Homo sapiens: one gene and its partner. The protein of the gene in region 1 interacts with the protein of each later gene in a biochemical or structural test. Each region holds a gene or a part of one and is shown on either strand. Other genes may lie near its edges.

The links. The genes of interacting proteins can lie anywhere in the genome.
Region 2: the proteins of TPST1 (region 1) and GOLPH3L form a complex in vitro, tested with the Homo sapiens proteins (one study listed by BioGRID).

What each region holds. Positions count from the first base shown.
Region 1 is NC_000007.14:66,285,306-66,292,335, forward strand, and holds part of TPST1 (protein-tyrosine sulfotransferase 1), read left to right. Parts: intron 1-1,205; coding exon 1,206-1,404; intron 1,405-7,030. UniProt on the Homo sapiens protein: Catalyzes the O-sulfation of tyrosine residues within acidic motifs of polypeptides, using 3'-phosphoadenylyl sulfate (PAPS) as cosubstrate.
Region 2 is NC_000001.11:150,687,141-150,694,170, reverse strand, and holds part of GOLPH3L (Golgi phosphoprotein 3-like), read left to right. Parts: intron 1-7,030. UniProt on the Homo sapiens protein: Phosphatidylinositol-4-phosphate-binding protein that may antagonize the action of GOLPH3 which is required for the process of vesicle budding at the Golgi and anterograde transport to the plasma membrane.

The DNA.
Region 1 (7,030 bases):
CGAGGATGTTCTTTACACAGTTTAAGAATGTCAAGCAAAGAACATTAGGGATGAAGCAATACAGGGAGAATAGATAGAGTGAAGGGAGCAGTGGGTTAAGTGGAGTCCTGGAGAAATATTTGAAAAGGGAGAAAGGAATGTGGCTCCTGAGGTAGGAGGGAAACCTGGAGCAGGTAGCCCCACAGAAGCCCAGGGAAGAGGCATTGTTTTTCTATTATTTTGGAAGCAGATCCCCTTTAGGAGACTCCTCATCAGATAATGATTATTCACTAAGAGGTTATATTCTTAATTAAAAGGGCCTTTACCTTTTCTTAGAATACTATGTTTGAATAACTTTTTATGTATTACGATATAAAAGTCTCTTTTAAGCATTTCTGTTTTATAGTCATTTGGCCAAAATCTAATTCAGATCCAGCTTAAATCCAAATGTCATTTGATGCTACATTTTATCCTGAGGTTGCTAGTTATTTAGTCAAATATAGTGAGTATAATCACTACAGGCTTAGAGTAAATTTCCATGTCAAGAGGTAGAACACATTTATTCTGTAATATTGAATCCTGTAATATTGAAAATCAAAAACAGCCCTTTTTTTTCTTCTGTAGAAAATAAGATTTTTAAGGAAGGCAGCAGGAAAATAGAACAAGTGAATATTTTACGTTCTTAGTGGTTTATGGTTGGCAGTTTTCCCCCAACATTTTGTTACGAAAAGTTAAAATGTACAGAAGAATTGAAAGACTTATACCCACCAGCTAGATTGTGCCATTAACATGTTGCTGTATTTACTTTATCACTGTCCATCTCTCTGACCATCTATTTGTCCCTCTTTCCATCCATCAGTCTGTCTTTTTTTTGGTAAGCATTTCAAGTAAGTTGACTGACAATTTTTCTAAGCAGCTGTATCTTTATTTTGTTACTGTTTTTTTCCTGGATGTTGTAATTACAGTGTCAAGACATTTAATAATGCACATGTTTCAGCTAACCCTTTTCCCAATTTCTAGAAATCTGAGATTGCCAATAATCCCTGTCAATCTTAAATTATTTTTTAATTCTGGTAAATAGTGTCAAACCTGATTAGTGCCCTCTTTCTCAATTGTTTTGTAATCCAGACAACTGTTAGTCATTAAAACATAATTTATAGTGGTTTTAAAGCATGATTTTCTAAAAAATTTTAAATAAATATTTATTCATATTATGTTGTTTTCAGAGTGGAGAGATCTACAGACCAAGTAATCAAGCCAGTCAATGTAGGAGCTCTATCAAAATGGGTTGGGAAGATACCGCCAGATGTTTTACAAGACATGGCAGTGATTGCTCCTATGCTTGCCAAGCTTGGATATGACCCATATGCCAACCCACCTAACTACGGAAAACCTGATCCCAAAATTATTGAAAACACTCGAAGGGTAAGTGAGATTTTTTAAAGCAACTGAGAAAACTAGATTTTGAATTTGGGATCTGAATACGTTTTTTTCTTATTTTATTTCTTGCTATTTAATGATCAGAAAAATATATTTTTTTTTTTTTTCATTTATTTTTATTTTATTTTATTTTATTTTTTTTATTATACTCTAAGTTTTAGGGTACATGTGCACATTGTGCAGGTTAGTTACATATGTATACATGTGCCATGCTGGTGCGCTGCACCCACTAATGTGTCATCTAGCATTAGGTATATCTCCCAATACTATCCCTCCCCCCTCCCCCAACCCCACCACAGTCCCCAGAGTGTGATATTCCCCTTCCTGTGTCCATGTGATCTCATTGTTCAATTCCCACCTATGAGTGAGAATATGCGGTGTTTGGTTTTTTGTTCTTGCAATAGTTTACTGAGAATGATGGTTTCCAGTTTCATCCATGTCCCTACAAAGGATATGAACTCATCATTTTTTATGGCTGCATAGTATTCCATGGTGTATATGTGCCACATTTTCTTAATCCAGTCTATCATTGTTGGACATTTGGGTTGGTTCCAAGTCTTTGCTATTGTGAATAGTGCCGCAATAAACATACGTGTGCATGTGTCTTTATAGCAGCATGATTTATACTCATTTGGGTATATACCCAGTAATGGGATGGCTGGGTCAAATGGTATTTCTAGTTCTAGATCCCTGAGGAATCGCCACACTGACTTCCACAATGGTTGAACTAGTTTACAGTCCCACCAACAGTGTAAAAGTGTTCCTATTTCTCCGCATCCTCTCCAGCACCTGTTGTTTCCTGACTTTTTAATGATTGCCATTCTACCTGGTGTGAGATGATATCTCATAGTGGTTTTGATTTGCATTTCTCTGATGGCCAGTGATGATGAGCATTTCTTCATGGTTTTTTGGCTGCATAAATGTCTTCTTTTGAGAAGTGTCTGTTCATGTCCTTCGCCCACTTTTTGATGGGGTTGTTTGTTTTTTTCTTGTAAATTTGTTTGAGTTCATTGTAGATTCTGGATATTAGCCCTTTGTCAGATGAGTAGGATGCGAAAATTTTCTCCCATGTTGTAGGTTGCCTGTTCACTCTGATGGTAGTTTCTTTTGCTGTGCAGAAGCTCTTTAGTTTAATTAGATCCCATTTGTCAATTTTGTCTTTTGTTGCCATTGCTTTTGGTGTTTTGGACATGAAGTCCTTGCCCACGCCTATGTCCTGAATGGTAATGCCTAGGTTTTCTTCTAGGGTTTTTATGGTTTTAGGTTTAACGTTTAAATCTTTAATCCATCTTGAATTGATTTTTGTATAAGGTGTAAGGAAGGGATCCAGTTTCAGCTTTCTACATATGGCTAGCCAGTTTTCCCAGCACCATTTATTAAATAGGGAATCCTTTCCCCATTGCTTGTTTTTCTCAGGTTTGTCAAAGATCAGATAGTTGTAGATATGCGGCATTATTTCTGAGGGCTCTGTTCTGTTCCATTGATCTATATCTCTGTTTTGGTACCAGTACCATGCTGTTTTGGTTACTGTAGCCTTGTAGTATAGTTTGAAGTCAGGTAGTGTGATGCCTCCAGCTTTGTTCTTTTGGCTTAGGATTGACTTGGCAATGCGGGCTCTTTTTTGGTTCCATATGAACTTTAAAGTAGTTTTTTCCAATTCTGTGAAGAAAGTCATTGGTAGCTTGATGGGGATGGCATTGAATCTGTAAATTACCTTGGGCAGTATGGCCATTTTCACGATATTGATTCTTCCTACCCATGAGCATGGAATGTTCTTCCATTTGTTTGTGTCCTCTTTTATTTCCTTGAGCAGTGGTTTGTAGTTCTCCTTGAAGAGGTCCTTCACATCCCTTGTAAGTTGGATTCCTAGGTATTTTATTCTCTTTGAAGCAATTGTGAATGGGAGTTCACCCATGATTTGGCTCTCTGTTTGTCTGTTGTTGGTGTATAAGAATGCTTGTGATTTTTGTACATTGATTTTGTATCCTGAGACTTTGCTGAAGTTGCTTATCAGCTTAAGGAGATTTTGGGCTGAGACGATGGGGTTTTCTAGATAAACAATCATGTCGTCTGCAAACAGGGACAATTTGACTTCCTCTTTTCCTAATTGAATACCCTTTATTTCCTTCTCCTGCCTGATTGCCCTGGCCAGAACTTCCAACACTATGTTGAATAGGAGCAGTGAGAGAGGGCATCCCTGTCTTGTGCCAGTTTTCAAAGGGAATGCTTCCAGTTTTTGCCCATTCAGTATGATATTGGCTGTGGGTTTGTCATAGATAGCTCTTATTATTTTGAGATACGTCCCATCAATACCTAATTTATTGAGAGTTTTTAGCATGAAGGGTTGTTGAATTTTGTCAAAGGCCTTTTCTGCATCTATTGAGATAATCATGTGGTTTTTGTCTTTGGCTCTGTTTATATGCTGGATTACATTTATTGATTTGTGTATATTGAACCAGCCTTGCATCCCAGGGATGAAGCCCACCTGATCATGGTGGATAAGCTTTTTGATGTGCTGCTGGATTCAGTTTGCCAGTATTTTATTGAGGATTTTTGCATCAATGTTCATCAAGGATATTGGTCTAAAATTCTCTTTTTTGGTTGTGTCTCTGCCTGGCTTTGGTATCAGAATGATGCTGGCCTCATAAAATGAGTTAGGGAGGATTCCCTCTTTTTCTATTGATTGGAATAGTTTCAGAAGGAATGGTACCAGTTCCTCCTTGTACCTCTGGTAGAATTCGGCTGTGAATCCATCTGGTCCTGGACTCTTTTTGGTTGGTAAACTATTGATTATTGCCACAATTTCAGAGCCTGTTATTGGTCTATTCAGAGATTCAACTTCTTCCTGGTTTAGTCTTGGGAGAGTGTATGTGTCGAGGAATGTATCCATTTCTTCTAGATTTTCTAGTTTATTTGCGTAGAGGTGTTTGTAGTATTCTCTGATGGTAGTTTGTATTTCTGTGGGATCGGTGGTGATATCCCCTTTATCATTTTTTATTGTGTCTATTTGATTCTTCTCTCTTTTTTTCTTTATTAGTCTTGCTAGCGGTCTATCAATTTTGTTGATCCTTTCAAAAAACCAGCTCCTGGATTCATTGATTTTTTGAAGGGTTTTTTGTGTCTCTATTTCCTTCAGTTCTGCTCTGATTTTAGTTATTTCTTGCCTTCTGCTAGCTTTTGAATGTGTTTGCTCTTGCTTTTCTAGTTCTTTTAATTGTGATGTTAGGGTGTCAATTTTGGATCTTTCCTGCTTTCTCTTGTAGGCATTTAGTGCTATAAATTTCCCTCTACACACTGCTTTGAATGCGTCCCAGAGATTCTGGTATGTGGTGTCTTTGTTCTCGTTGGTTTCAAAGAACATCTTTATTTCTGCCTTCATTTCGTTATGTACCCAGTAGTCATTCAGGAGCAGGTTGTTCAGTTTCCATGTAGTTGAGCGGCTTTGAGTGAGATTCTTAATCCTGAGTTCTAGTTTGATTGCACTGTGGTCTGAGAGACAGTTTGTTATAATTTCTGTTCTTTTACATTTGCTGAGGAGAGCTTTACTTCCAACTATGTGGTCAATTTTGGAATAGGTGTGGTGTGGTGCTGAAAAAAATGTATATTCTGTTGATTTGGGGTGGAGAGTTCTGTAGATGTCTATTAGGTCTGCTTGGTGCAGAGCTGAGTTCAATTCCTGGGTATCCTTGTTGACTTTCTGTCTCGTTGATCTGTCTAATATTGACAGTGGGGTGTTAAAGTCTTCCATTATTAATGTGTGGGAGTCTAAGTCTCTTTGTAGGTCACTGAGGACTTGCTTTATGAATCTGGGTGCTCCTGTATTGGGTGCATAAATATTTAGGATAGTTAGCTCCTCTTGTTGAATTGATCCCTTTACCATTATGTAATGGCCTTCTTTGTCTCTTTTGATCTTTGTTGGTTTAAAGTCTGTTTTATCAGAGACTAGGATTGCAACCCCTGCCTTTTTTTGTTTTCCATTTGCTTGGTAGATCTTCCTCCATCCTTTTATTTTGAGCCTATGTGTGTCTCTGCACGTGAGATGGGTTTCCTGAATACAGCACACTGATGGGTCTTGACTCTTTATCCACCTTGCCAGTCTGTGTCTTTTAATTGCAGAATTTAGTCCATTTATATTTAAAGTTAATATTGTTATGTGTGAATTTGATCCTGTCATTATGATGTTAGCTGGTGATTTTGCTCATTAGTTGATGCAGTTTCTTCCTAGTCTCGATGGTCTTTACATTTTGGCATGATTTTGCAGCGGCTGGTACCGGTTGTTCCTTTCCATGTTTAGCGCTTCCTTCAGGAGCTCTTTTAGGGCAGGCCTGGTGGTGACAAAATCTCTCAGCATTTGCTTGTCTATAAAGTATTTTATTTCTCCTTCACTTATGAAGCTTAGTTTGGCTGGATATGAAATTCTGGGTTGAAAATTCTTTTCTTTAAGAATGTTGAATATTGGCCCCCACTCTCTTCTGGCTTGTAGGGTTTCTGCCGAGAGATCCGCTGTTAGTCTGATGGGCTTTCCTTTGAGGGTAACCCGACCTTTCTCTCTGGCTGCCCTTAACATTTTTTCCTTCATTTCAACTTTGGTGAATCTGACAATTATGTGTCTTGGAGTTGCTCTTCTCGAGGAGTATCTTTGTGGCGTTCTCTGTATTTCCTGAATCTGAACGTTGGCCTGCCTTGCTAGATTGGGGAAGTTCTCCTGGATAATATCCTGCAGAGTGTTTTCCAACTTGGTTCCATTCTCCACATCACTTTCAGGTACACCAATCAGACGTAGATTTGGTCTTTTCACATAGTCCCATATTTCTTGGAGGCTTTGCTCATTTCTTTTTATTCTTTTTTCTCTAAACTTCCCTTCTCGCTTCATTTCATTCATTTCATCTTCCATTGCTGATACCCTTTCTTCCAGTTGATCGCATCGGCTCCTGAGGCTTCTGCATTCTTCACGTAGTTCTCGAGCCTTGGTTTTCAGCTCCATCAGCTCCTTTAAGCACTTCTCTGTATTGGTTATTCTAGTTATACATTCTTCTAAATTTTTTTCAAAGTTTTCAACTTCTTTGCCTTTGGTTTGAATGTCCTCCCGTAGCTCAGAGTAATTTGATCGTCTGAAGCCTTCTTCTCTCAGCTCGTCAAAATCATTCTCCATCCAGCTTTGTTCTGTTGCTGGTGAGGAACTGCGTTCCTTTGGAGGAGGAGAGGCGCTCTGCGTTTTAGAGTTTCCAGTTTTTCTGTTCTGTTTTTTCCCCATCTTTGTGGTTTTATCTACTTTTGGTCTTTGATGATGGTGATGTACAGATGGGTTTTCGGTGTAGATGTCCTTTCTGGTTGTTAGTTTTCCTTCTAACAGACAGGACCCTCAGCTGCAGGTCTGTTGGAATACACTGCCGTGTGAGGTGTCAGTGTGCCCCTGCTGGGGGGTGCCTCCCAGTTAGGCTGCTCGGGGGTCAGGGGTCAGGGACCCACTTGAGGAGGCAGTCTGCCCGTTCTCAGATCTCCAGCTGCGTGCTGGGAGAACCACTGCTCTCTTCAAAGCTGTCAGACAGGGACACTTAAGTCTGCAGAGGTTACTGCTGTCTTTTTGTTTGTCTGTGCCCTGCCCCCAGAG
Region 2 (7,030 bases), on another chromosome or scaffold:
AATATCAACAGTTGGATTACGCGGTGGCTCACGCCTGTAATCCCAGCACTTTGGGGAGCCGAGGTGAGTGAATCACTTGAGGCCAGGAGTTCAAGACTAGCCTGGCCAACATGGTGAAACCCCGTCTCTACTAAAAATAAAAAATTAGCCATGTGTGGCGGCGGGTGCCTGTAATCCCAGGTACTCGGGAGGCTGAGGCAGGAGAATCACTTGAACCTGGGAGGCGGAGGTTGCAATGAGCCAAGATTGCACCACTGCACTCCAGCCTGGATGACAGAGTGAGACCCTGCCTCAAAAAAAAAAAAAAAAAAAAAAAAAAAAAATATATATATATATATATATATATATATACACACACACACACACACACACATACATAAACAATTGAGGATTATTTTAATTTTTGAAAATTTTTAAAAATAATTTTAGCTTTTCTCTTTTTTCCCTAAATGTCTCCTTATTTAATGGAACATTTATTTTATAGTACAGTTAGTCTTAAGGTCCTGAGTCTTGTGATATAACCAGAAATTTCCCTGGCTTCTCTACTAGTATACATCATCATCCTTCATTTGTAACTTTTTGCTGTGTTTTCTCATCACACTATTCCCTCATGAAGAAGTTACGAAGGTAACATTTTAAACAATCTGCTTTCTTTCCAGGAAAGCCTTAAATAACCGCCCCCCCTCGCCCACCGCCTGCAAGAAAAGAAAGAGGTATATTTATTACTGGCCTCAGTTTTGAAAACATACAAAATTAGAATGTTATTTTAGATTTTAAAAGTACTAAATTTGGCTTTGATAATTATCCTTAGCTAGAAGTGAATTGGCTGCATACAAGTAGTAACAGCTCTTCTTTTCTACATAATTCTTCGACTTGGAAATACCATTGTTGTTTAGATTTTGCCTTTCATTTATTTACTATTTTCCTTTTTACTTTTTTTCTTGTTAAATTACCAACTTGAACAAAATTTACAGACCAGTTATAGTCTGTGTATTGTTAAAACTAATATTAGAGACATGCTTATGTGTACCTGGCCAAGATGTAGGTATATCAGAAATTCTTGCCCGGAAATATATTTTCCTGTTTGCTGAGAAGTTGATGAGCCTTCAGTTTTATAAAAGGCAAATAAACGAAAAGGCAAAACCAGCTCTCCAAGAGAATGTCAGAATAGGACTGAAGATTAGGTGATATAAATACTCTTTTGAGACGTTTACACATTACCTAGGAAACAGTCACTGACTGTATAAAAAGAGGATATAGAACTAAAAGCTATTTGGTTTGTTTTAGCTTTGAATAGGAATGATTAATTTCCTGCTGACCTTATGCACTGGAATTTTTGCTTTTGGGCTTGTCTTCATGTGTTTATAATGGTTAATATAAATTTTAGGAAATAGAATAAAAAATAAAGCAGCTCATTAAGAGCTATGGCCATGGTGAGTACTTAACATATTGGTGAGATACTGTACAAAATAAGCAGATGGCTGGATGCAATGGCTAATTCCTGTAATCCTAACACTTGGGAGGCCAAGGTAAGAGGATTGCTTGGGCCCAGGAGTTCAAGACCAGCCTGGGCAACATGGTGAGACACCATCTCTACAAAAAATTTAAAACAAAAAAATTAGCTGGACATGGTGGCACATGCCTGTAGTCCTAGCTACTCAGGAGGCTGAGTCAAGAGGATGGCTTAAGCCTCGGAGGTCGAGGCTTCAGTGAACCAGGATTGTGTCACTGCACTCCAGCCTGAACAACAGAGCAAGGCCTCAAAAAATAATAAATAATAGCACATAACAATTAACCACCTTTTGAATTGCTCTAATTTTATTTTTGAGGATAGTTAACAAATATTTAGCTTTCATTTGGCTCAGGAAGAATAAAAGACAATAAATCCTTAGGTGTAAATGAATAGAAGAGGTCAAACTTTGTGATTTATTTAAATAGTAGTAGTTACAAAAGGCCAGTTACATAACTATCTCTAAAAATATTAAATTGATTCCCAACTGTACTTATTTTTTTCTTATCTCTCAAACTATCAATAGATTCATTTAATCAATATTTAATGTGATTGAGGACACCCATTATGTGCTTAGGATTATGCTAAATATTAATACTAAGGTAAATATAAAATAGTATAGTATATGGTCCCTGCCTTCAAGAAACTTGCATTCTAGCTGGAGAGACAAAAAGATACATACTTTTTAAAAGTTAAGTAACCCGAAGGTCCATCAACAGCAGAATGGATAAAAATGAATCATCAAAAAAAAAAAAGAGTCATCCATTTGTTTAAATGAGTATAAATATGTTTTCTATACAGAATGAAAATGAACATTGTTATACAACATGTATATTTCTCACATTATGTTCAATAAAAAAAGCCAAACACAAAAATATACATACTGTATGATTCCATTTATATGAAACTCAAAAAACTATTGTATTTGAGGTTGCATATTTAGGTGGTACAATTATAAACAAAATCAAGCCAGGAATTACTATAGTTTTTAGAATAGTGATTATCTTTTTGTAAGGGATAGGGGAAGGAAAAGGGTGTTAGTAATTAGGAAGGAAAATGGAGAGGATTTCTAGATAGTAACAATTTTCTGTTTCTGGACCTAGAGGAAGTTTCATAGTTTTGTTTTTGTTTTTGTTTTTGTTTTTAAGACAGAGTCTTGCTCTGTCACCCAGGTTGGAGTATAGTGGCACCATCTTGGCTCACTGCAACCTGCGCCTCCCGAGTTCAAGCAATTCTCCTGTCTCAATCTCCTGAGTAGCTGGGATTACAGGCACCCGCCACCATGCCTGGCTAATTTTTGTATTTTTAGTAGAGATGGGGTTTCACCATATTGGTCAGGCTGGTCTTGAACTCCTGACCTCTCAGGCGACCCACCCAACTTGGCCTCCCAAAGTGCTGGGATTATAGGTGTGGCCTCCCAAAGTGCTGGGATTACAGGCGTAAACTACTGCTCCCGGCCTTTTTTATTTATTTATTTATTTTTGATACGGAGTCTTGCTCTGTCCCTCCTGGCTAATTTTTGTATTCTTAGTAGGGAAGGGTTTTCAGCATGTTAGCCAGGCTAGTCTTGAACTCCTGATCTCAAGTGATCCACCTGCCTTGGCCTCCCAAAGTGCTGGGATTACAAGCGTGAGCCACTGCACCTGGGCCATAGATCTTCACTTTGGAATAATTAAGCTTTTTACTTTGTTTTGTTTATTCTTCTGTGTGTACATTATATTTCACAATGCAAAATATTTTTTTTAAAGTAAACAACAATAAAAAGCAAGTTTTTGCATGTTAGAATGAGCCAAGGGAGTTAGAGAGAGGAGAAACCATCATGAGATAGAGTAATCCGGGGAAGAATAGAAAAAGGCAGTAAAACAAGCCATGCCTTTAAAAATGGGAGGATTAACATGAATGGAGAAAAGGAAACACGTTCTGGATGAGGGAACCTGAGTGAGCAAAGGTATCATGAGCTTGATGAGTTTGGGAGATAACTGTGAGTAGGCCAGTATGACTGAAGTAGGTGGAGAACAATGGGATTCAAAATCAGTAAATTCGATTTGGACCAGATTATAGATTTTGTTACCAGGCAGAGACTTTTAGACTCTTTCCTTTAGGGAAAAGAGAATCAGCCTAATGAAAACAGCAAAGCCCATTTCATTTTTGTGTCCAAATTAAGGGCTTAATAACATTTTTATGTTCTTTGTGAGTATGTTTTAATGTGTATATAATTGCTTGTTTTTACATGGTTTGGGATTTGTGACAAGTCAAAAAAGGAAAAAATCCTAAATGTTAAATTTTGTGTCCCAAACTCCCAAACTTTTACTGGAGAGTTCCCTAAGATCCTCTGTTTAGAACCCAGTATTATCATTTTTTTAGAAACTATGTGTCTTTCAAGCAGGCACGGTGGCTCCTGTCTGTAATCCCAGCACTTTGGGAGACAGAAGGATTGCCTGAGGCCAGGAATTCTAGACCAACCTGGGCAACATAGTGAGACCTCATCTCTACAAAAAATATAAAAATTAGCCTGGCATGGTGTCACATACCTGCAGTTTCAGCTACTTGGGAGATTGAGGCGAGAGGATTGCTTGAGCCCAGGAGTTCAAGGCTGGAGTGAGCTGTGTTTGTGCCACTGTACTCCAACCTGGGTGACAGAGTGAGACCCTGTCTTAAAAGAAAAAAAAAAATTCTTCTGAGGGGTAACTACCACAGACTGGTTTTAAAATATTAAGCATCTGGCCAGACGCAGTGGCTCACATCTATAATCCCAGCACTTTGGGAGGTTTGAGGCGGGCAAATCACTTGAGGCCAGGAGTTCGAGACCAGCCTGGCCAACATGGTGAAACCCCATCTCTACTAAAGGAAAAAAAAAATTAGCTGGGTGTGGTGGCATGCACCTGTAATCCTAGCTATGCTGATGGGAGAATCTCTTGAACCCAAGAGGCAGAGGCTGCAATGAGCCAAGGTCACACTACTGCACTCTAGCCTGGGTGACAGAGTAAGACTGCCTCAAAAAATATAAACTAATTAAATTAAATATTAAGTATCATTGTCTTATGAAAACAATCAAGAAATTTAAATATAATTTGAAGAGTATAACCTTTCAAGCACAGTTAAAATTAGATACTATCTCAGTTCAATAACACTGACCTCAACTGAGAAAGTAAACATTGAGCACAAGCCTGACCAAAATAAAATAGGTTTATCTCCTGTTGAAATCAGGAATCTGCTTATTTGTTATTATTGCCTTTGGTAAGAGTTTTGATATAGATTATTAACTCATGAACAGTGTTTTAATTGACTTGCTAATGTATAAAACTTTTCATTTATTAGAATCGTTTCTTAAGTTACCTGTAAGGGGAGTAAGCCAATTACTGCTTTTGACTCCTAGTGGTCTTTTCATTTCTCATCTATTTAATTTGTGGATAATGTTTTTCAACCATCCTCTCTTTCTTGGAAAGCTTTCTCCTAGTAATGCCATTTATTGAATACTTACTACTTACTGTGAAAGAAAAGCTTTTCATCATATTTCTCATGTCACTGTGGTAAAAATTGGCAAGAAGTATTATCCATTGGAAATATGGCAATACATTTTCACTTATTTGTTTAATCACCAAAAATTTTATTGAATGACTCATATGTCATAGAAAGAGAGAACAAAAACAATTGTCCCTGCTTTTGAGGTCAATTTATGGTTTAGTGGCATAGGGATGGTTGGAGATGCTGGGAGTAGAAGCCAGAAAGTCAGCAGACCATTTCAGAACAATGTGATATGTGTATAAGTGTGTTCTGAGTAGGAAGGAAACACAGAGGAAAAGCACGTAAATCAGATGGGTGGTGGGAAGGAGCAGTAGGAGAGGGAAGAAGAGATGTTGGGAAAGACTTACAGGAGGTGATAACTCTTTTTTTTGTTGTTTGTTTGTTTGAGATAGAATCTCATTCTGTCACCCAGGCTGCAAAGCAGTGGCGTGATCTTGGCTCACTGCAACCTCCACCTCCCGGATTCAAGCGATTCTGCTTCCTCAGCCTCCCAAGTAGCTGGTATTACATGCACCTGCCACCATCCCCGGCTAATTTTTGTATTTTTGTAGAGACGGGGTTTCACCATGTTGGCCAGGCTGGTCTTGAATTCCTGACCTCAGGTGATCCAACTGCCTTGGCCTCCCAAAGTGCTGGGATTACAGGTGTGAGCCACTGCGCCCCGCCAGGAGGTAATAACTCTTAACTGGAATAAGAGTGAGTTAGTCTGTAAAGAGACAGGTTCTAGGAAAAAAGAACATCAACTGGATGTTCCTAATAATTTCAGTGATGTGCAACTGGAATAACCACAGATGTCTGAAAGCATCCCATCTCCTTTTAATGAACTCCAGTGTTTTAAAACTGAAGTATGAGAGCTGAACATCCAGTTACATGCTTTATTGTTTAAGTTTTCTAAAATTGTGAAATACAGTGTATCCAGAAAATTGTATAAAGCACATATATACAGTTTAACAAGTAGTTTGAAAGCCAACAGTCATGTAATCACCAATAGAACAATATCAGCATCCTGGAAGGCTTCTCTTATGCCTGCCCCTAATCACATGCTGCCCACTTCCCTGTAGTTTTGACATGTATGTATATCCCTAAACAATATATTTTAGTTTTGCCTGTTTTTAAACTCTATTTTATTGGGTTAATATTTTAATGTATTCTTTTGATCAATATAATGTTTGTGAGATTTGTCCATGTTGTTGCATATAGTTTAATCCAGTTCATCCTGATTAATATTTCATTACATGAATATACCACTATTCATTCTATGGGTTAATGCACATTCAAGAGTTCATTATGAACAGTGCTGCTAAAATTCTCCTGGTACTTGTCAGTTATCTTTTTTCAAACAATCTACTGTTATCCACTATACGTATGGGAATTATACGTATGAAATTCATATGTATTTTTAATTATAAAGTATGTTAATGCTACGCTTTTTCAAGCTGCTGATGATCCTCCATCAAGTATAGTTCATCTTTATTAGCAATAGGAGATTAGAAGTAAAAGCTTCTTTAAAGCTGGTAAAAAAAATTCACTAATCAAAAAGTTTTTTTTTGTTTTTTTTTTGAGACAGAGTTTCGCTCTTGTTACCTAAGCTAGAGTGTAGTGGCACGATCTTGGCTCACCGCAACCTCTGCCTCCCGCGTTCAATTCTCCTGTGTCAGCCTCCCAAGTAGCTGGGATTACAGGCATGCACCACCACGCCCGGCTAATTTTTTGTATTTTTAGTAGAAACGGGGTTTTACCACGTTAGCCAGGCTGGTGTCGAACTCCTGACCTCAGGTGATCCGCCTGCCTCGACCTCCCAAAGTGCTGGGATTACAGATGTGAGCCACCACGCCCAGCCCAAAAAGGTTTTTAAAATCAGTCACAGTCAGTCAGTGTCCAACTTGTTGATTATTGGCTATGAATGAAGAAAATTGGCCGCCTTAAAAAGTGACTCAATCCTAAAGCATTTTATTATAATTAAAATATTAATAGCAGGCCGAGCAAAGAACAAGA